6 linked regions of the Homo sapiens genome follow. The protein of the gene in region 1 purifies or fractionates together with the protein of each later gene. This does not show direct contact. Each region holds a gene or a part of one and is shown in the gene's direction. Other genes may lie near its edges. The genes, in order: SETD1B, KAT14, BTK, SYT1, KANSL3 and EPB41L1.

Region 1 (3,867 bases):
TGGCTAGGGCCCACGGACATGCAGTTTTCAACCAAATATGGACGGAAAAGACCGGTGGGATGCGAAACCCACTGTATATGGAGGGCGATCGCCTATACGTGGGTTCTGCAAGGCAGACTACAAGCTTTGAGTATGTGCAGATTTAGGTATACCAGGGAGTGTTAGAACCAATTCTCTGTGTGTATTGAGGGACGACTGTGTTTTGTTTAATGTAATGTATTTTGTTTTGTTTATTCCACCATTAACCACAGTCTTTGAACATTGACTCAATACTAAGCCTCTATTGTGTCCCTGCTATTATTTTAGGCAGTAGCAATGCAACAGTGGACCAAACAGACAAAAATATCTGCTCCCACGGAGCAGGGGAACAGATGACAACAGATCAATTAGAAAATGAAAAACAGGTGGCAGGCTCCTGTAATCCCAGCTACTTGGGAGGCTGAGGCAGGAGAATTGCTTGAACCCGGGTGGCAGAGGTTGCAGCGAGCCGAGATCGTGCCACACTGCACTCCAGCCTGGGCGATAGAGTGAGACTGTCTTAAAAAAAAAAAAAAAGAAAGAAAAAGAAATGTGCCGGGCGCGGTGGCTCACACCTGTAATCCCAGCACTGTGGGAAGCCGAGGTAGGCAGATCAACTGAGGTCAGGAGTTTGAGACCAGCCAGGCCAGCATGACGAAACCCCATCTCTACTAAAAGTACAAAAAATTAGCAGGGCGTGGTGGCACGTGCCTGTAATCCCAGCGGCTTGGGAGGCTGAGGAAGGAGAATTGCTTGAACCTGGGAGGAGGAGGTTGCAGTGAGCTGAGATTGTGCCATTGCACTCCAGCCTGGGTGACAGAGTGAGACTGTCTCGAAAAAATAAAAATAAAATAATGTAAAAATAGAAAATGAAAAAGATGTATTCTGTGGTCGGGCATGGTGGCTCACATCTGTAATTCCAGCACTTTGGGAGGCCAAGGCTGGCGGATCACTTGAGGCCAGGAGTTCAAGACCAGCCTAGGCAACATAGAGCCCATCTCTACAAAACATTTAAAGATTAGCTGGGCGTGGTGGCACATTCCTGTAGTCCCACCTACTCAGGAGCCTTAGGCAGGAGGATCCCTTGAGCCCTGGCGGTCTAGGCTGCAGTGACCGTGATCATGCCACTGCATTCCACCCGTCTCAAAAATAAAAAAATAAGTAAATTCATTAAAAAATTAAGAAGTGTATCCTGTGACAGTGGAGATAAGTGCTAGGAAAAAAATCCTTGAAGGCTCCGACAAGTCCTGCAGAAAAGAGACTTGTTGAATTTTATTCAGTCATAGAGCAGATTTTCTTGGGCCACAGGGACTTTGTTCTGAAGACGTAGTATGAAAGGCTGGAATACATGTCTCCTGCATCTGTGATTTAGCCTAGCAACATTGATAAAGCACATACTGTGTGCCTGACACTGGGTTGGGCGCTGAGGAGTCCTTGAGGGGTTTAGCTGGAGAAGGACAGGTCCCGTGCTCAGACTCAGGGCTGTGAGCCTGCCAGGTATGGAGCACAAAATAAGGCACTGAGAGACGTTTGGATTGAATAGTAAATGTCTCGTGTTCGCTCACCTCTCTGCAGAACATGACCTGGAAGTGGAGCCGGAGCCCCCTATGATGCTCCCCTTGCCGCTGCAACCACCATTGCCGCCCCCACGACCACCCCGGCCACCCAGCCCACCGCCGGAGCCTGAGACCACAGATGCCTCACACCCATCTGTCCCTCCGGAGCCCCTTGCCGAGGACCACCCCCCGCATACTCCAGGCCTCTGTGGCAGCCTGGCCAAGTCGCAGAGCACAGAGACGGTGCCAGCCACACCAGGCGGGGAGCCCCCGCTATCAGGGGGCAGCAGTGGCCTGTCCCTGAGCTCTCCGCAAGTGCCCGGCAGCCCCTTCTCCTACCCAGCCCCGTCCCCTAGCTTGAGCAGTGGGGGCCTCCCTCGGACACCTGGCCGGGACTTCAGCTTCACACCCACCTTCTCCGAGCCCAGCGGGCCCTTGCTCCTGCCCGTCTGCCCACTCCCCACTGGCCGACGCGATGAACGCTCCGGGCCCCTGGCCTCCCCGGTGCTCCTGGAGACGGGCCTGCCCCTCCCTCTGCCCCTTCCCCTGCCCTTGCCCTTGGCATTGCCCGCCGTCTTGCGGGCCCAGGCTCGTGCGCCCACCCCGCTGCCACCCCTGCTGCCCGCCCCCCTGGCCTCTTGCCCTCCCCCAATGAAGAGGAAGCCGGGCCGGCCCCGGCGATCCCCACCATCTATGCTCTCCTTGGATGGGCCCTTGGTCCGACCACCAGCAGGGGCCGCCCTTGGAAGGGAACTCCTGCTCCTGCCGGGCCAGCCACAGACCCCCGTCTTCCCCAGCACCCATGACCCCCGGACGGTGACCCTGGACTTCCGGAACGCGGGGATCCCAGCCCCTCCACCACCCCTTCCCCCCCAGCCACCCCCACCCCCACCTCCCCCACCTGTAGAGCCCACCAAGCTGCCCTTTAAGGAGCTAGACAACCAGTGGCCCTCCGAGGCCATTCCTCCGGGCCCCCGTGGGCGCGATGAGGTCACTGAGGAATACATGGAGTTGGCCAAGAGCCGGGGGCCGTGGCGCCGGCCACCTAAGAAGCGCCATGAGGACCTGGTGCCACCTGCGGGCTCGCCCGAACTCTCGCCACCCCAGCCCCTCTTCCGGCCCCGCTCGGAGTTTGAGGAGATGACCATCCTGTATGACATCTGGAACGGTGGCATCGATGAGGAGGACATCCGCTTCCTGTGTGTCACCTACGAGCGACTGCTACAGCAGGACAATGGCATGGACTGGCTTAACGACACGCTCTGGGTCTACCATCCCTATATCCTGCTGGCATGGGGGGCTCTGCACCTTCTGGGATGCAGGAAGTCCCTGCTCACCTCTCTGGGCCCCACCACCCAGTCTGTAGCAGCCCGCGGTGCCCATGAAGGTGACAGCATGCACCACCGTCACTTCCCAAGCAGGGTTTGTGTCCCGGCACCATGCCAGGCTCCCGAGTGAATCATTGGCACGTTTTAAGGACTCCCTCTGCGCCAGGCCCATCTCACCCCCAGAGTTAGCAGGTCTCAGGGTCACATGTAACAGCAGTGCCGTGCAGCTTAACAGCACACACGGGCGCAGGGCCTCCTTGTCCTGTCCCCTTCATAACCTCAGGTAATCCCGGTAGCCTGGTGAAGATGGGGGCTATGATTCCCATTTTACATATGAAGAAGCTAAGGCTCAGAGAGGTTCAGTGACCTGTCCAAAGACACAGCTACAGGTGGCAGAGTTGAGATTTGAACCCAGGCAAACCTGGCTCTAGAGTCCAGGCTCTTCACCACCAGGCTTTCATGAGGCTTGGCTGTTCACATAGGCCAGTGAGGCTAGACCTCTCATTATCCCTGCTGTATTAGACTGATTTGTGAGCACTCAGTTTGTGTCAAGAGCTCTGCTCAAGTGCCGGGCACCATGGCTCACAGCTGTAATCCCAGCACTATGGGAGGCTGAGGCGGACGGATCACTCGAGGCCAGAAGTTTGAGACCAGCCTGGCCAACATGGCAAAACCCCATTTCTACTAAAAATACAAAAATTAGCCGGGTGTGGTAGCACATGCCTATAATTCCAGCTACTCTGGAGGCTGAGGCAGGAGAATTGCTTGAACCCGGGAGGCACAGGTTGTAGTGAGCCAAGATCGCACCACTGCACTCCAGCCTGGGTGACAGAACAAGACTCTGTCTCAAAAAAAAAAAAAAACTCTGCTAAGGACCATAAGCATATTTCATCACTTGCAGAGAGGCATCACTGTCACCCCAATTTACAGATGGGAAACTGAGCAGAAAGTTGTTAAAACACCCA
Region 2 (3,867 bases), on another chromosome or scaffold:
TTCCCCTCAGAGGAAGCCACTTTGACTTACAGTGTTAATTATTCTTTTGCTTTTTAAATGTGTATGTCTCTAAATGATATACTTTTCGTTTAAAAAAATACTGAGTAGCAAGCATAAATCTAGCTGTGTAAGTAAATTGCCACTATTAGATGAAGTTTCCTGGAGAAGATAAGCTAAATAGTCATTCTGGGTCATTGTTGTGGACTGAATTGTGTCCCCCTTAAGCATATGTTGAAGTCCCAACCCTGGTACCTATGAATGCAGCCTTATCTGGAAATAGGCCCTTTGCAAATATAATTAGCCAAGACCACCAAGGATTGCCGGCAGCACCAGGAGCTAAGAGAAGGGCACAGAACAAATTCTCCCCTAGTGCGTACCCCAGAGAGCATAGCCCTGCCCACACTGTGACTTCTGACATTTGGCCTCTAGAACTGTGAGACAATAAATTCCTGTTGTTTTAAGCCACCCAGTTTGTGGTGCTTTGTTCCTACAGCCCTGGGAAACTAATACTTACAGTGATGTTCTGGCTTCGGCTTCCATGAACCCCTTCTGAGGTAGTCACTGGCCAAGGTCACTAGGGAGTCCTGGGAAACATGAGGCTCACCATAGCGTATGCATCAGCCAGGGCTGTGATGTATACCAGAGATGCGGCAGAAATCTGGGCAGAGGAAGTGGGATCCTCTGTATTTCCTGCCTGAGCTGACAGCTTCCTTCCAGCTTGCAGAAGGTCAAAGCAGTTATTTGTGGAGTGAGCATCATCAGCTGGTCTTTGGGGTGGGCATGGGTGGTGTACAGGAGGCTCACCTGTACATGGTGAAGACAAGCTGAGCGTAGATAAGATTCTGGGCCACGACGCCATAGGTTTAAAAGATGGTCAGTGGCAGCAAGGACTTAAGGATGATAGCCTCAATATGTGTTAGAAATACCAAAATTGTTAGAAATAGATAATCGGTGCTGCGAAGAAAAGTCAGCACAGAGACAAAAGGTATCTCAGCAAGGCCATCTTTTCTTTCTGTAGAAAGGGTGCTCAGTTGCAGATGGAACAAAGGTGAGAGCACACTTGAACACAGGAAAAGCAGACATATTTATCCCTTACGCACTTGGGTCGTCCTTACTGCTGTGTCCTGCATCCACTGGCTGGAGCGGGACCTCACAATCTTAAACTGATACCCGATTTGCTAATAGCCTAAAACTTTCCTAAATAGGTAAGTGCAGGGAAGAACAAAGAAGTTGCTTACAAAAGGTTTAAGGAAGCAATAACATTTCCAAATAAGGAAGGGGCGTAGACTGTGGGCTGGAACGTGCCTGTGAGCATGTCCAACGGTTACAGAGGATAGGGCTTAACAAAGAGTTATTAGCACAAGGCAAGGAGACTTGAAGAAAGTTAGTCTTTAAAAGAAACTGTTATTTCTAACACTTATGATTTATTCTTTAACAAGAAGGAAAACTTTGAAGAGGAAACTTTTTACTTTCTACACTATGTCTGCCCCTTGGGTCACACTTGTTCACCCTTTGTTGTGAAACTCAGCAGGGGTGTTGGGATCTCCCCTCTCTGGAGATTCTTTTGCCCTCCTCTGTATTTGATCTCCTGTTTCCTGTGGCCCATCTTTACCTTGTTATAGGTTTATTCCCTTGTTCTTAATGACTTCCTGAGAAAAGCTGCATGGGAAGTAAAATTTGAGACCAACATACTGAAAAGACCCTCATTAAGTGAGGTTGAACCTGGAATTCCATACACAGCCACATTGTCTAGGTGAGACCTCTGTTGAGGACCACTGCACTTCCTTTAGGTTTTTTCTTTGAATCTAGTCAGAGTCCCTGGGGAATAATCTTCTGGGCTCAGGATGCTGGTTGCCAAGTTGGGGAAGAGGGACCTTAGCATTCAGCTTGTCAGGTACTCACACCTCAGCCCTCCAGCTGGATCCCCTGTTAGTTCTCTAGAGATCAGACCTCCTGGCTTCTGGGGGAGGGCAGCCACCCAGCAACAGGGAGTGGAAGGATCTGGGGATCATACTGCTTTCCACATGGTGTTTGCCTGCTCCTTATTTTATTGTCCCATTTGGTCCCAGTTCCAGAGGAATCTGCTGGCTGCTGCCTGGATTTTAGCGGGTTCTGTAGTATAGATTGGGTTAGTTCTCATTTAGCTTACCCAAAGCCACTTTGGGATTTTGGTGTTAAATCAGTTACTATTTGTCCATCTGTTTACCAGTTACTGTTCTAATTAAGTCAGCTTCTATAGTTTTAGTGGGATTTTGGGAAGTAGTAAAGCTTTATATGCTTGTGTTTTAACCCAGTCTTAACTTGGAATTTTAGTATAAATTTTAATGTATTTACACAGGGAGTGGCTGTAAATGCATTTATTCAATCCATACTCTTGTTTTATATTTATTCTTTGAATGTATTCGTAGCTATAAGTTTCTCAATAAGTGCTGCTTTAGCTGTGATTCTTGACTTTTGAAATGATGTGATTTTATTTCCAATCAGTACTTGGCATTTTGTTATTTTTCTCATTATTTCCTCTTTAATCCAAAGGTTATTTAGTTGTTTTTTGGTTTTCAGATATATGAGAATTTTAAGCTATGTTTTGGTAATTGATGTGATTTCTAATGTTGTATTATGATCAGAGAAAATAGTTTATGTGATGTTCATTCTGTACCATAAAGAAAGTTATACATTCTATTTTTATTCTTTTTATAGGTCCTAACTTAAGATACATTTATTTTTCCTTATTCTTTTTTTAATATCATGTGGTTGTCCCCCCAAACAAAAAAGTACATTTTCATGCACTTATCTCTTTTTTTCTTTTGTATTGCTTATTTAAATGACATAAATCTTTACTAAATTATTCACTCGTCCTATTGTTTCTTTCTAGATTAATTTCTTGCTGGACTGCTTTCTCTAACAGTTCTTTAAAAATATGGGCTTTTTGAGGTTAATTTTGAAAACTTATACGACTAAGAATATCTTCATTTCACTTTTTCATTTAAATGATAGCAGTCATATAAAATTGTTATTTTAGTTTTTTCCATTGATATTTTGAAATTATGACTTCATTATCATCTTACATACAGTGTCACTCCTGAGAACCCCGGTACTGATAAGAAATAGAAATTTTTGACTGGGCTCAGTGGCTCATGCCTGTAATCCCAGCACTTTGGGAGGTCGAGGCAGGCAGATCACTTGAGGCCAGGAATTTGAGACCAGCCTGGACAATATGGTGAAACCCCGTCTCTACTAAAAATAAAAAAATTAGCCAGGCCTGGTGGCGCATGCCTATAATCCCAGCTGCTTGGGAGGCTGAGGCTTGAGAATCACTTGAACCAGAGAGGCAGAGGTTACAGTGAGCTGAGATCATGCCACTGCACTCCAGCGTGGGTGATTGGGTGAGACTCTCTCTCAAAAAAAAAAAATTTTTTTTGTTTCTTATCAATTAAGTGGCCTCCTTGTTTTATTCTCCCATCTCCTAAAACTTTCAGAATTTTCTCTTTGTTTTTTATCTTTAATTAGTGCATGTTAAGTGTCTTTTATTTTCTCTTTTTAAAGCTTTGTTTTCTTTTTTCTATTATTTTATTTTCCAGCACATCCAAAACACAGAAATTGTGTTTGTTCTCATTTGTCTTACTTGACAACTCTGTTCTTTTGGTCAGAGGTATTTTATATGCTTCTTGGCATTTATTCTGCTTGGTGTTCGCTGACCTTCCTGAATGTGTGGTTTGGTGTCTGACATTAAATTGGGGATATTCTCAGTCATTATTGCTTCAAATTTTTCTTCTATTCCTTTCTGTCTTCTGGTATTCCCATTGTGTGTTTATTACACCTTTTGTAGTTTTCCGCAGTTCTCGGATAGTCTGTTTTGTTCTTTTTTTT
Region 3 (3,867 bases), on another chromosome or scaffold:
GCGCCGGCCTAGTGTTCTATTTTTATGACAGCATTTGTTTTCACTTTATCTTTCCAATGAAAGTTCGGAATTAGTAATAATATTACACTGTGCATAAACTGTAAGTGAATAACTGATATGAAGTGTTGCTTGGTGTGAATAAAAAAGCCAGTGGTGACTTTGGGAACTTTATTTGTCTTTCTGTGTTTCAGTTACCTAAATTGAATCCTTCTGGAGTATTGTAGGTTTGGGGAGGCTAAATAAGTTGTGTTTCATAAATGAACAGAGGTGGCATCTATATCAGTAAGACAGTTGCATCACTTTTGCATGATGCTGTCTAAAAGAACTAATTTAAGCTAAATGGGGAAAAGGTCAGAAAACAACAACTACCCCCCCCCCACCAAAACCCACCAAAAAAAATTATGTTTTCAACTTTAGAACAAATCTTCTATCCTTTGTAGCTCAGTCAGTGGGTGTGGGCAAAATCAGTTGGGCAGCAGTTAGTGTGTGTCCAGAACTGCAGGTGCAGCCTCCATATCCTTATTAGTTCCCTTGGTTACAGACCCCAGTGGGACAATGTTTGAAAAATTATATTCACCGTCTAGGAAATTGGGAACTGAAAGTCCAATATCTGCCTCAGTGGAGTTCTGGCACCTGCATTATCCCTTCTGGGTATATCAAGATCAACAGCTGCACAGATACTTTTGCTTTTCACAGATTCTACACATATCATATAAAGGTGAATAGTGTAAAGCTACCTCTACACCTTACCAAGCACACAGGTGCGTGCCATTTAACATCTAGAGCATTCCATTGCCTTATACAAGAACTCAGTTTATATGAGCTCACAACATCGAACCAATCCCCCCCCAATTCAGTGTGCATCCATTATACCTGAAACCTGACAGAGCTGGGGGCTGTGGGAGGAGGTTGGTAGGAAGAAATTATTTTGTGAGCTGTGCACATTTTTGTTCCATTTGAAACTAGGTAGCTAGGCTGAGGGGGAACCAAGAGGGATGAGGATTAATGTCCTGGGTCCTCAGGAACTTTCATTATCAACAGCACACAGGTGAACTCCAGAAAGAAGAAGCTATGGCCGCAGTGATTCTGGAGAGCATCTTTCTGAAGCGATCCCAACAGAAAAAGAAAACATCACCTCTAAACTTCAAGAAGCGCCTGTTTCTCTTGACCGTGCACAAACTCTCCTACTATGAGTATGACTTTGAACGTGGGGTAAGTTTCTCGACTATGAAAACTGAGTTTCAAGATATCAAGGACTTGGCCTTAGATCTTTCTTGGGGAAGAGGTAAATTTTCGTTGGTAGGAGGAGGGGAGTAGAATGGACCTAAGTTCTTTCAAATTCAGCAAAATATTTCCTAGCCTATAACTAGCTAAAGCCGGAAAGTCAAAGGTCCTAAGAAGCCACAAGGAAAATATTACCATGGAATCTTGGAATTGATGAGCACTCATTAAATGATTGTTGAAAATGAAATCGAAGAGTTGGAAATTGCTTCCTTACTTCCTATGAGGAAGGTACATACAGTCATTCACTCTTCCATGGTATTTGCCCTCCATTTGGTAGTCATAGATTTATAGATCTGGAAGGATTTTTTTTTCTTCCCCCACATGACAGGTCCTGGTGCCACCTCACTTTGTTGAATGATTAGATAACAAAATCTAATCATCTGGTTGCTTAATCCCTCTTAATCTTTCTCCATTTTCTTCCTCATTCTACTTCTCAGAGAAGAGGCAGTAAGAAGGGTTCAATAGATGTTGAGAAGATCACTTGTGTTGAAACAGTGGTTCCTGAAAAAAATCCTCCTCCAGAAAGACAGATTCCGGTAAGAAGAGACCAATGTCTGAGATGGGGAACAGCAGATTTGAAGAAATTTGCAACATTTAAATTCTCTGTAAATAGACTGGTGATGCTGTGCAACGTGGAACACGGTCAAGTTTCCTTTAAAAATTCTTCACTCTACCATATTGGTTATAAAGAATCTTAGCTTCTTTCCTTCATATTCAGAACATCTCACTAAACATGGAAAATTTGTTAACACAAACTTTTAAATGATGCTATATCTAGTTTTCAAACTGGTCAGAGATCATTGATTTTATTCCCTCAGTTCTCTCAGGATCAGATTTAGAGGCTTAAGTAAGTCTGAATGTCATAATCCTAGGGCTCTGAGTCACATGATATCCTTTAATACCTTACTATTTATTCTCTTCTCACTTTCCGGAGCGAGAGACATAAAACCTACTGATTTTTGAGTTCACTTTTAAAAAATATATATCAATTTCAGTATTTTCTTTTTTTCTTTTTTTTTTCTTTTTTTAGACAGAGTCTCGCTCTGTTGCCCAGGCTGGAATGCACTGGTGCCATCTTGGCTCACTGCAACCTTCACCTCCCGGGTTCAAGCAATTCTCATGCCTCAGCCTCCCAAGTAGCTGGGATTACAGGTGTGCACCACCATGCCTGGCTAATTTTTCGTATTTTTTTAGTAGAGACGGGGTTTCACCATGTTGGCCAGGCTGGTCTTGAACTCCTGGCCTCAAGTGATCCGCCTGTCTCGGCCTCCCAAAGTGCAAAGATTACAGGCGTGAGCCACCCACTGGGTCTGACCATTTTCAGTATTTTCTTGATCACAGGAGAATTGCGTATTTATTACAGAAACTCTGGAATATATAAAAAATACAAAAAGATTAAAATGATGCATAATCCTGTTACCCAGTTAAAACAACTATCAACATATTGGTGTACATAGACTTACAGATGTTTTTCTTCACTGAGAACACATACGCATACACTTATATATATGTCATATATTTAAAACATAGACTCATAGTACACATCTTGCTTTGTAACGTACTTTTTCAATGTAACGATATGTGGGAAACTTTTCCCCATGACAATAGATATTCTTTAATAACATGATTTTAATGACTGTATGGTATTCCCTATTATGGATGTATTGTAATTTGTTTAATCTCCCATTATTACACATTCGGTTTGTCTACAAGTACTTGATAGTATAAACCATGTTGAGAGGAACAATCTTGCATACATCTTTCTGTACTTTTTTTATTCTTTTCCTTATGATAATTTCCTAGAAGTAAAATTTTGTTCTTCTCTTTAAGAAAATCTGTGCACTTTGGTTATTTTTATCTTTTTATTTCATTTTCTAGAAGTGGAATTGAATTTCATACACACCTACAAGCTATGTATGAGAGTGCCTGTTTCTGTACATTTTTTCCAACACTAGATATTTTGTTATTTTTATTATTATTATTATTTTCTGAGATGGAGTCTCGCTGTGTCGCCCAGGCTGGAGTGCAGTGGTGCGATCTCCGCTCACTGTAACCTCTGCCTCCGGTTCAAGTGATTCTCCTGCCCCAGCCTCCTGAGTAGCTGGGACTACAGGCGCCCACCACCACACCCTGCTAATTTTTGTATTTTTAGTAGAGATGGGGTTTCACCAGATTGGTCAGGCTGATCTCAAACTCCTGACCTCAAGTGATCCTCCCACCTCGGCCTCCCAAAGTGCTGGGATTACAGGCGTGAGCCACTGTGCCCAGCCCAACACTAGATATTTTAAATATTAGTTAATTTGACAGCCAAGAAAAATAGCATTTCAGGTGGGGCGTGGTGGCTCACGCCTGTAATCCCAGCACTTTGGGAGGCCAAGGCAGGCGGATCATGAGCAGGAGTTCGAGACCAGCCTGACCAACATGGTGAAACCCCGTCTCTACTAAAAATACAAAAATTAGCTGGGCATGGTGGCGCGAGCCTGTAATCCCAGCTACTCGGGAGGCTGAGGCAGGAGACTCCCTTGAACCCAGGAGGCGGAGGTTGCAGTGAGCCGAGATCGCACCACTGCACATCCAGGCTGG
Region 4 (3,867 bases), about 43 Mb from region 1:
AAATTAAAAAACTTCTGTACAGCTAAATAAATAATCAACAGAGTAAATAGACAACCTATAGAATGGGAGAAAATATTCACAAACTATACATCCAACAAACGGCTAATATCCAAGATCCACAGGGACCTCAAATCAGCAAGAAAAAAAGATAATAATCCCATAAAAAGTGGGAATATGTGAAGAGAGATTTTTCAAAAGAAGCCATACAAGTGGCCAACAAACATATGAAAAAAATGCTCCACATCACTAATCATCAGAGAAATAAAAATTAAAACCAAAATGAGATACCACCTTACAGTCAGAATGGCCATTAATAAAAAGTAAAAAAAAAAAAAATAGATACTGGCATGGATGCTGTGAAAATGGAACTCTTACTCACTGTTGATGTATTAGGTAAATTAGTACAACTTCTATGCAGAACAGTATGGAGAGTTCTCAAAGAACTAAAAACAGTTCTACCATTTGATCCAGCAATCCCACTAATGGATATCTACCCAAAGAAAAAGAAGCCATTATATCAAAAAGACACCTGCACTTATATGTTTATTGCAGCACAATTCACAAACGCAGAGGTATGGAATCAACCTAAGTGCTCATCAATGGATGAGTGGATAAAGAAAATGTCAGATACGGATATAGAGATATAGATAGATATAGATAGATAGATCATGGAATACTACTCAGTTATAATAAAAGAACAAAATAATGTCTTTTTGCAGCAACTTGGTTAGAATTGGAGGCTATTATCCTAAGTGAAGTAACTCAGAAACAGAAAACCAAAAACTGCATATTCTCACTTATAAGTGAAAGCTAAGCTATGGGTATGCATGGGCATATAGAATGGTATAATGAACACTGGAGACTCAAAAGTGGGAAGGGGATGAGAGATTAAATATTACCTATTGGATACAATGTACACCATTCAGGTGATGGGTACACTAAAAGCCCAGACGTTACTACTATACAATTCATCCATTTAACCAAACCCCTAGAGCTACTAAAATAAATAAATAAATGAAAAGACAGCAGAAAATACATGACTAGCCCACATGAATATTACTAATGTATAGTTACCTATATACAGCATATATTACAAATCTCTTGAGGTCTTCTTTGTATCACTTGAGTTCCTATTGTTGCTATAATGAATTATTCCAAGTTTACTGTCATAAAAGCCACACACATTTATTATTTTCCCATTCTGGAGGTCAGAAATCTGAAATTGGTTTCACTGAGCTGAAATCAAGGCGTCAGCAGGGCCAATTCTCTCTTGAAGGTGTAGGGGAGAATCCATTTCCCTGCCTTTTCCAGCTTCAAGAGGCACCTGCATTCCTTGGCTCATGGTCCCTTTCTTTATCTACAAAACCAGCAACAGAGACTCTTCAAATCTCCCTCTCTCTCTTGGACTCTGACATTTCTGCCTGCCTCTTTCACTTATAAAAACTCTGGTAATTGCATTGAGTCTACACTCAGATAATTCAGGATAATTTCCCCATCTCAAGATCCTTAATCTAATCACACTTGCAAAGTCCCTCTTACCAGGCAGGGTAAGGTATTCACAGCTTCCAGAAAATAGGATGTGGTCATCTTGGAGGGGCCATTATCATGTCTACCACAAGGTATTAATTAAAACATCAGAAGCAGTTTTAAATTAATTTGCCTTGTACTTAATTATTATGTATCAATTTACCTTTGGGTCAGATAATATATGTGAGATTGATTCATTAACTAGAAAATGAAAATAAAATTTTTAATAGAGTTTTTATACTAGTCAATTATTTTCTGCTGAAAGGCCTTTAAGTTGAATGTTAAAATTGTTATTATAAACTTCCATGTAATGGTAGTTGGGTAGCAATAACAATAAACTGATAGTTTTCTGCCTGTAGCAGTATTTTGATGAGACTATTTTTGACTGAAACTCTTATTTTGTATTTAAAAAATCACTGCATTTTATGCTGTTATTTGCTTCACTGAATTATTTAATTTAATATGTTCTATTAAAGAGACTTTAAAGCTAGATACAAATTTTTTCTCCGTATACATTTTTAATATTCACATTTTTAACCTAACGACCTAAAGATAAATTTGAATTTCTCAAACTATTCAACCTATAGTTTTTCCTCTGTAAAACTGCAGTGATACTGAACAAAACTGCTGCAAAGAATAAATAAGATAATGTATCTATAACTGTAGCCAAATTGCTGGGCCATAACAGGTAGGTAGGTCTTCAATAAACTTTTAGCCTGATCCAAAATATATTCCACAAGATTTGCTGACCAATATTGAAACATGTTTCTACAAATACTGCAGATGAATAATACTGTGGGTGTTGTTTCTTAGTAAACTTGCCAAATTTTAAATATTTGGTTACTCTACACAATTAAATAAAATTTTAACATGAGCATCCAAGTAACTCTATTTACTAAAAATGGCTGTTTCTTTACATGATATATGACTAATGAGTGAAGCTATCCTATAGCTATACAAAATGATAACGTTAAGCATTTTTTATTTTGTCTATCTAAAGGTGCCAATACATTGTGAAGAAAATTCTGTTAATTTCATTATATTTAATACAGCATATTCCAACTTAAAGTTATTCAGAAGATCAACTGAAGGCAAATCTAAAAGACAGCAGTGCTTTAAGAAATAAAAGTCATAAAACAAAAGTTTTTCAGTGGTTATAAATTACTTTCAAGTTGCATTATTTCAAATTTCTTCCTGTAATCTCATGTTCCTAGCTCTTTAACTCCCTTTGATTAAATGATGTTCCTTTGCTTTCACTATTTTCTTTTTGTGAACTTGTCAAATCATCTTTGTCTTGTCTTGTACAATTTAAGAGACTTTTATGTAGCTCTCTGAGCGACTATCACCACACAAGTCCAACTGGGAGAATAATTTATGAGGTTCAAAATGAAGGGTCATTATGAATGCTGTCTTTCCCGCAATGAATACATACACTCTCTTGTTCATGCATGACAGGATTTTAACTAAATCAATGGAGATAGATGCTTTTAAATGAAGTATTATGAATGATATCATTGGTTACATAAAATAATTTACTTTTTATGTAATCTTTACCTTGTTTAATAAATTTAGAGAACTGGAAGAAAACTTCTTTAGGTGTGGGTTTATCTGTAACTGTCACATAAGTATTTCTTTGGTAGAAAACACAATTTCAAAAGTTGTAGTTTTATGTCCTTAGGTTAACATCTAGTATCCAGTCATAAGCCAGAATATTATGCATAGTAAGTATTCTGCACAATGATACTAAATGCAGAGGAAAAGCAAAGAGAGTAGATTTTCTCAATTTTGAAGAGAGGTTAATTTTTAAGTGTTTTTACTTTATCAAAGTATTCCTGACTGGTGTTCAGCAATCATTGGTTCTAGTAATGTTTATTTGGCTTTTTCTTATCATTTCAGTGCCCAGTATCTTTTTTTTTTATTACAACAGACAAATCTAATTACTTCTGATTAATCTCAATAGCTGTGATTTGGATTATGAATACTTCCCTTCCAATCTAACTGAAATCATAAATGTTTCCATGTCACCTTATTTTTTATAAGCACATGGTGTAAGGCATACCAAATAAGAAAATATATTAACTTTTATCAGAGAGACAACTGTAATAGAAAACTCAATGTTTATTTTAGTATATTTATGTATATATGTTCTATTATTTTAAACAGCCTGTAAACCTAAGCCTCTCCTCTTATCTAAAAATCATCCGTCCTCCTCTCATTGCCTTTGCATTTTCACTAAACTCCCCTCTGTGTATTTATCTTGCTTTTTAGGTATTTACTTGTGTGAGTAGTTTATGTTTTTTCATATGTCCTGAGCTCTCTGCCTTACCCACCATGCCTTGA
Region 5 (3,867 bases), on another chromosome or scaffold:
GGATTCCTTGGCCTTGAATAAATGCAGTGAGTAAATGTCCTGGTCTGCAAGTGAGTAAATGTTCCAGTCTACAGGTGCTGTATCCTCTACTGTAAGGAGAAATAGCCGATAGGACATATATGTATAGTCAGCCTTTCTTATCCACAGGAGATTGGTTCTAGGACCCTCACCACTACCAAAATCCATGGATGCTCAAGTCCCTTATATGAAATTATGTCATACCGTTGGAATTCTATATCCACAGGTTTCTATCCGTGGTTGTTTGAATCTGCAAATCTGCTGTGAAGCTCACAGATAATTGAGAGCTGACTGTGGTTTTACTTTGCTGTTTTAAGCACATCTGCCTGAATAAAACTGGAAATGGTGCTACACTGGGCATTAGCAAAATGAGACATTTTTCTGTCTGTGCTTGTCTCTCTCTTTGTCCTACCCACTAACCCTACTTTGAAAGGCCTGTTGCCTGAGCCCAGCAGGGCCAAGGCATTGCAGAAACCCTCTCCTGGCCAGGCATGGTGACTCACACCTGTAATCCCAACACTTTGGGAGGCCGAGGTGGGTGGATCACCTGAGGTCAGGAGTTTGAGACCAGCCTGGCCAATATGGTGAAACCCCGTTTCTACTAAAAATACAAAAAATTAGCCGGGTGTGGTGGTGGGCACCTGTAATCCCAGCTGCTTGGTAGGCTGAGGCAGGAGAATCGCTTGAACCCAGGAGGTGGAGGTTGCAGTGAGCTGAGATTGTGCCATTGCGCTCCAGCCTGGGCAACGAGAGCGAAACTCCGTCTCAAAAAAAAATAAAATAAAATAAACCCTTTTCCTTTAAGAGAACCTTTCTTATTGCTTTGAGGCTACTTCCTTACTGCTTTGATTGTGTGAGGCGAAGTGAAAGTTGGATATTTATAATTCTTTTGGCTTAAAAAGTTCTTCCCTGGAAAGAAAGGAACAAACTTGGATTTCTCAAAATGGTCTAAAATGTATGACTGATGGTTTGCAGCAGGTGCAGAGCAAGTCCGGGGCAGTGTCTGGCACAGTACCTTTCCTGTGTGGCATCCATTGCGTGTGTGCCTAGTTGGGGAGAGCTTCCTGCCTTCTCTCTGAGGACGGGTGTCCAAGGGCAAGCACCACTGGTGTTTTAGTTGGTGGTGAGGGTGGATGGATGTGGCTGCTCTCGGGATAGTGCAAGTGATTGAGTCTCTACTGATTCCTGCTATGTCCTCTCTTAGGGGCCACATCAGCCAGCAGCCTCCTCCAAGGCCTCAGCTTCAGCTTGCAGGATATCAGCAGCAAGACCTCTGGCCTTCCAGCAAATCCCTCCCCAGGACCAGCCCCACAGGTGCACATCTGCCATCTGCTGGGCTGGGCAGGTGTAGGGAGGAGGCCTCCTCAGCTTAGTTGGTTTTGGCAGGGAAACTAGGTCTGGAGTCAGTGGATCAAGGACAAACAGCCTTCTAGCTACATAGCAGGGAACTTACAAAAGTTAAGGTCTATCATTTACTGTGTGACCTTGGGCAAGTTTCTTGACCACTCTGTTTTTGTTTCTTTGTCTATAAAATGAGGTAATAATAGTACCTCCCTCATAGAGTTGTTATAAGAATGAAATAATATATGCAAAATGCCTGGAAGAGTACCTTGCATGTAGTAGGCACTCAATACATGTTAGCCTTTAATAATATGCTGTGGGCCCTCCAAGCTCGAATGTTGCTGTTGGGCGACAGCTTCTGATCACCTGGGCTTGTGTGTCCCACAGGCCACCAGTGTGAAGTTGCCCACCCCCATGCAGAGCCTGGGTGCCATCACCACGGGCACCAGCACCATTGTCCGTACCATTCCTGTGGCCACCACTCTCTCCTCCTTGGGTGCCACTCCTGGTGGGAAGCCCACAGCCATCCACCAGCTGCTGACCAATGGGGGCCTCGCTAAGTTGGCAAGCAGCCTCCCTGGCCTGGCTCAGATCTCTAACCAAGCATCAGGTGAGTCTCTCATGAGAACTGTGGGGACTCCCAGATCTGGGATCTTTCCCCCAGGACCTTCCCATCTCATGTGGGCAAGGTATGATGTTGAAACCAGTCCCACAGGGTCCTGGCATTGACCTTTGGATTCAGCTGTGTGGACCCATCCCCCAGAGAGGTTGAGAGAACACAGGCTGTTTCCTGTTGCCTTTCAGATTGACTGATAGGGCATAGATGACCCAGCTGGGGAGGAGGCCAAGGGACTGTGTTATGTGGGGGAGAAGCTCTCCAGGAAAGGAAAGCCTCAGTAGAAGGTGGAGAGTGTGACTCAAAAATTCTGCTTCTCTCTCTTTATCTCAGGCTTGAAGGTCCCCACCACCATTACTCTGACACTTCGTGGCCAGCCGAGCAGGATCACTACACTGAGCCCTATGGGCTCAGGAGCAGCCCCATCCGAGGAGTCCTCTTCCCAGGTGCTGCCCTCCAGCTCACAGGTGAGTCTGCCAGGAAGGACTGAGGACATGGGCTTCATTATTGGGAAGTTTAAGACCAGCTGACTGGCTGATTGAAGGGGCTGCCCATGCACTGGACAGACGAGATTCAGATTCAAATTCAAATCTGTATTCTGGAGTTTGTGGCTTTATAATATTGAGCGAATCATGGACATCTTTGAGCTTCCTCTTCTACATCCCTCCCTTGATATTGTGAAGAGTACATATGTTCAAGTGGGTAGCAGTGTCTAGTATTTAATGTTTTTGTTTACTTTTCCTTTCGTTTCATTTTTTTCTCATCCTTGGTTTCATCCTTCAGAGGTTATGAGTAGAGGCTACTTGGCTAATGCTCTTTCTTTGTTTTTATTTTTATTTTTTGAGATGGAGTCTTGCTCTATCGCCCAAGCTGGAGTGCAGGGGTGTGATCTCGGCTCCCTGCAACCTCCACCTCCCCGGTTCAAGCAATTCTCCTGCCTCAGCCTCCCAAGTAACTGGGATTACAGGCGCCCGCCACCATGCCCGGCTACAACAGGGTTTCACTGTGTTGACCAGGCTGGCCTCGTACTCCTGACCTCAAGTGATCTACTTGTCTCGGCCTCTGAAAGTGCTGGGATTACAGGTGTGAGCCACCGCTCCTGGCCCTTTCTTTGTTTTTAAGGACATGGAGACAGAGATATCTCACTATGTTGCCCAAGCTGGCCTTGAACTCCAAGGTTTAAGTGGTCCTCCCGCCTCGGCCCCCAAGTATAATACTCTTTCTTTGACATTGGCTTTCTAGCACTGTGCCTTCCCATATCTTAGCATTTATTGCTGTCTTTTTAGGGCACAGCTAGGTTTTTATAGGTCTCACCCAGGAAGTCATGATTAGTTTCTCTTAGCTGATCTAATTTCCCCTGTGACCTTTTCAAGTCAAATATTTCTAATCTTAAAATGGTAATCTGAGGAGCCACTCAAAGATTAGAAGTTAAGCCAAAAAACAGTTTGAGTCTAGTACTGAGTGTGCTTTCCTTCAGTATCCGCTATACAGCCAAGGCCTTCCTGTGTCTCCCTGTCCTTTCCACCATGTCAACCTGCTTGTGAACTGGAGGTGCAGTGATAGTTCCTGAGCCATTCTAAAAGCTCTTCTGTCTCTTCCTCTTTAGGGAAAATACTGCACAGAGGTCAACACCTGACATTCGTTGGGATCATAGCTACCTTTTTTTGCAGAGGGATGGAAATGTTTTAATTTTATCTTATTTCTTATTTTTTCAATTATAAAAATGATTATGCTTATTTTAAATAATTCAAACATTATAGAAATAATTAATTTAGAAAGGGAAAGTTTCCCATGATGCTACTCCTAGAGATGATGTTCACTGTTAATAGCCTGATATGGATCCATTCAAATTTTTTTTTCTACACAAAGTATGTTATTTTATTTATTTTGTA
Region 6 (3,147 bases), on another chromosome or scaffold:
TTTGGAGCTAGAAACACCTTGGTAGCTGTGTGCCCAGAGGAACCTCTCTGACCTCAGTTTCCTCATCTGCAAAATGTCATTAATGTATACATTGGAGTTGCTGTAATAACTAAACAACACCTGTGATATACTGGATCTGTGTCTTGCCTACAGAAGGGGCTCAGCAAGGTGAACCTGCTTCCTTGTCCCTCTGAGGTTTTTCCATGTTTAGAGGTTGATGAGAGTACTGAGAAAGTCAGATCGTAATTCTCCACCACCAGCCTGGTGCCTGAGGCCCTGTCTCCATGAGGGTGTTTGTCTTACTGGTCTTCATCTTCTGTTCCTTCTGCAAATCCTCCAGAAACATCTGTCCCTGCTTCAGTTAACTCTGTCTTCCTTCTTAAAGTTCTTCCTTCTTGAAGTTCTTGCTATGAGCGTGGAAAGTCACTCATGTCACACAGAACCTTTTCCCTTCTCTCCCTGCAACCTTGCAGGTCAGACGTCTGGTTTCTGCTCCATCTTCTCCCACTGGCCCACCTCCTTCAGAGAGGACCTGTCTCCCAAACACCACCAGCAAGAGGGCAGCACTTGCCTAGCTTCCTAACCTTCCAAAATTTAATGGGAAAAAATTGACCTGTTCCAAAACAGGAACCTTGGGTTTTAGTCTTGGTTTTGCCAACTTACTAAGCCTGAAGCCTCTGGGCCTCGGTTTTCCTATGTGTCAAATGAGCCAAGAAAGATCCATTTTCTGTGATTCCGTTAGCACTCGACTGCATGCAAGTAGCAGAAATGATGTTTCATCCATTAAATGGTTTTGAGTAGTTGCTATGTGCCAGGCACAGTGTTGAACACTGGAAAGACAAGAGTTAAAAGATAGCCCTTACCCTCAAGGAGATCAGAGTAGTGTGTGGTTAAATTAACAACAGCAACAATCATCATAATAAGAACAGCCAGTATTTATTCAGCACTTACTATATGCTGGGCCCTTGCTTCAGTTCCTCCCTATAATGGGAGGCAGAACCTATTTTACGGAGGAAGCAATTGAGGCTTAAAGAAGTTAAGAAACTTGCCAGGCACTGTGGCGTGCACCTGTAATCCCAGCTACTTGGGAGGCTGAGGCAGAAGGATCACTTGCAGCCAGGAATTCAAGGCTGTAATGTGCATTGATTGTGCCTGTGAATAGCTATTGCACTCCAGCCTGAGCAACATAGTAAGACTCGTCTGTTAAAAACTGTTTAAAGTAAAGGAAGTTAAGAAACTCACCCAAGATTACAGAGCTAGCAGGCCCATAGAGTGGGATTTGAACTCAGGGAGTCTGATTTCAGAGCCTGCTCCTTTAAACACTGAGTTTTGGAGCCAAACCTGGAATCCAGACTTCATTTCTTTATTTAAACACTGCTGTCTGTGGTTTAATCTCCAGGACACAGCAAGCCCACGGACAACAGAAAGGAAAACCAAATGAAAAAAGAACATCTGCAATCGTGACTAAACATTTCTTAGAGCTGACAAGATAGGAAGAAAAAGTAAAATGATGATGATCTTAGCTTCTCGGTGTTAAAGGACATTTTAACACATTGTCAGGCCAAAGTAAAAGATTACCACCTCCCTGGAAACAAGCGAGCAAACACACATGGGCTCTGGAATCCAACAGATGTGGGTTCGGTTCTCTGCTGCCACACACAAGCTGCGTGGCCTTGGAGTGCAATAGCTACTCACAGGCATGATGATTACACATTACAGCCTTGAGTTTCTCACCTCAAGAGATCCTTCCACCTCAGCCTCCCAAGTAGCTGGGATTACAGGTGCAAGTCACTCTACCTTGCTGAGTCACAATAAAGGGCATATGGTAAAGGGTAGCAAAAACAACCTCTTGCCATGTATTTTAAAACAAGTGACAGAAGTTACTAATTTTTCTTGTCCTCTTCCTTCCTTTCCCCCCACTCCCCACCCCCCATTCTACCCCATGCCTCTGGCTTCCAGGAATCCTGACCTCTGTGAAGAGATCCTGGCATTTCTGGTCCAACCCAAGCCAGAGAACCATTAAGAAGGGGCCTTCATTCTGGATTCTCCGACGCAACACTGACGTCCCAGCTGCGACGTACTGTCACTGATGAGAGACTGGGAAGGGAAAAGCATATATATATAGATATATAGAGATATAGATATATATACAGGAAACACCGCATCCTTGCACTGCTGCTGGGGCTGGCAGAGCAGTTGGCTGACAGCAACAACCGACATCTGAACACCTACATTTCCTTTGCAGACAAATTGAAGAACTGGTGGGATTTTTTTCAAGAAAAAAAATTATATAATAACTATAATCCCTTGCTCACCCCTTTCCCCCGCCAAATAAGAAACGCAAGCCAGACCACGATGATTGTAGAAGTCCCTCCCGCCCTGGTTCTGCACGTTACAGTTAGCAGACGAGCAATTCCATTTGTTCTTCTCCAGCATCTCTAAGGCCCACTTGAATGCAAAGGAAAACACTTGCACAGCAAAGCAAGAGAAGTCACAGCAGCAAGACACGCACAGTCAACCATTTTCCGAGAAAAAAAGAAAATTCCCCACTTGGAAAGAAAGAGGAGGAACACTGGATTCTTACTTTCTGGATCTTGACACTGGGCTGCAAAACCTACCTTCCTCTCTCCCGCCTCCCCTCACCCTCAACTCTCAATGTCTTGCTGTCATTTTCTGTCTCGGCTCCCTCCTCCCCCTTCCCCCTTCCCCCACCCCACACCCTTCACCCTCTGTGTCCTGGTCCTTCTGAGGGCCACTGCAGATGACTCTCCTTTGAAATGAGAAAAAGAAAAGAAAGCAAGAACAGAAAACGAAGCCACAGGAAGGGAAGTAGACATTGTATGCTTATGGTTTCTCATTATGAAGGTGCAGCTTGTAGGAGGTTTGTACGGATGTGCTTTGAAGTTATGTATATTACATATAACAGGAAAAAATATTAAAATAAACAGTGCTGGTAAGTATGAAGCTGACATTCTAAAATTATAATTATCTGACTGTGATTGATGTATCCTGAGGTTCCTAGATCTCACTGAACTGGCCCAGCTAAGGAGACCTGGACTCTGGGTGTGGGTTGGCTCACAGTAGGGGCTGACGGGTTCAGTGTAGTAATACTGTGTGTGGTGTTTGTAATTGGTTGATTGGTGGGGA

Evidence for each region.
Region 2: the proteins of SETD1B (region 1) and KAT14 purify together in Homo sapiens (affinity purification with mass spectrometry, with the first as the bait; one large-scale study listed by BioGRID). This does not show direct contact.
Region 3: the proteins of SETD1B (region 1) and BTK purify together in Homo sapiens (co-immunoprecipitation; one large-scale study listed by IntAct). This does not show direct contact.
Region 4: the proteins of SETD1B (region 1) and SYT1 purify together in Homo sapiens (co-immunoprecipitation; one large-scale study listed by IntAct). This does not show direct contact.
Region 5: the proteins of SETD1B (region 1) and KANSL3 purify together in Homo sapiens (affinity purification with mass spectrometry, with the first as the bait; one large-scale study listed by BioGRID). This does not show direct contact.
Region 6: the proteins of SETD1B (region 1) and EPB41L1 purify together in Homo sapiens (co-immunoprecipitation; one large-scale study listed by IntAct). This does not show direct contact.

What each region holds. Positions count from the first base shown.
Region 1 is NC_000012.12:121,820,897-121,824,763, forward strand, and holds part of SETD1B (histone-lysine N-methyltransferase SETD1B), read left to right. Parts: intron 1-1,593; coding exon 1,594-2,853; intron 2,854-3,867. UniProt on the Homo sapiens protein: Histone methyltransferase that catalyzes methyl group transfer from S-adenosyl-L-methionine to the epsilon-amino group of 'Lys-4' of histone H3 (H3K4) via a non-processive mechanism.
Region 2 is NC_000020.11:18,165,130-18,168,996, forward strand, and holds part of KAT14 (cysteine-rich protein 2-binding protein), read left to right. Parts: intron 1-3,867. UniProt on the Homo sapiens protein: Component of the ATAC complex, a complex with histone acetyltransferase activity on histones H3 and H4. May function as a scaffold for the ATAC complex to promote ATAC complex stability. Has also weak histone acetyltransferase activity toward histone H4.
Region 3 is NC_000023.11:101,372,489-101,376,355, reverse strand, and holds part of BTK (tyrosine-protein kinase BTK), read left to right. Parts: intron 1-1,041; coding exon of another isoform or gene 1,042-1,071; coding exon 1,072-1,212; intron 1,213-1,721; coding exon 1,722-1,820; intron 1,821-3,867. UniProt on the Homo sapiens protein: Non-receptor tyrosine kinase indispensable for B lymphocyte development, differentiation and signaling. Binding of antigen to the B-cell antigen receptor (BCR) triggers signaling that ultimately leads to B-cell activation.
Region 4 is NC_000012.12:79,280,664-79,284,530, forward strand, and holds part of SYT1 (synaptotagmin-1), read left to right. Parts: intron 1-3,867. UniProt on the Homo sapiens protein: Calcium sensor that participates in triggering neurotransmitter release at the synapse. May have a regulatory role in the membrane interactions during trafficking of synaptic vesicles at the active zone of the synapse.
Region 5 is NC_000002.12:96,600,218-96,604,084, reverse strand, and holds part of KANSL3 (KAT8 regulatory NSL complex subunit 3), read left to right. Parts: intron 1-1,222; coding exon 1,223-1,332; intron 1,333-1,746; coding exon 1,747-1,969; intron 1,970-2,308; coding exon 2,309-2,442; intron 2,443-3,581; coding exon of another isoform or gene 3,582-3,611; exon of another isoform or gene 3,612-3,867. UniProt on the Homo sapiens protein: Non-catalytic component of the NSL histone acetyltransferase complex, a multiprotein complex that mediates histone H4 acetylation at 'Lys-5'- and 'Lys-8' (H4K5ac and H4K8ac) at transcription start sites and promotes transcription initiation.
Region 6 is NC_000020.11:36,227,373-36,230,519, forward strand, and holds part of EPB41L1 (band 4.1-like protein 1), read left to right. Parts: intron 1-1,959; coding exon 1,960-1,968; 3' UTR 1,969-3,147. UniProt on the Homo sapiens protein: May function to confer stability and plasticity to neuronal membrane via multiple interactions, including the spectrin-actin-based cytoskeleton, integral membrane channels and membrane-associated guanylate kinases.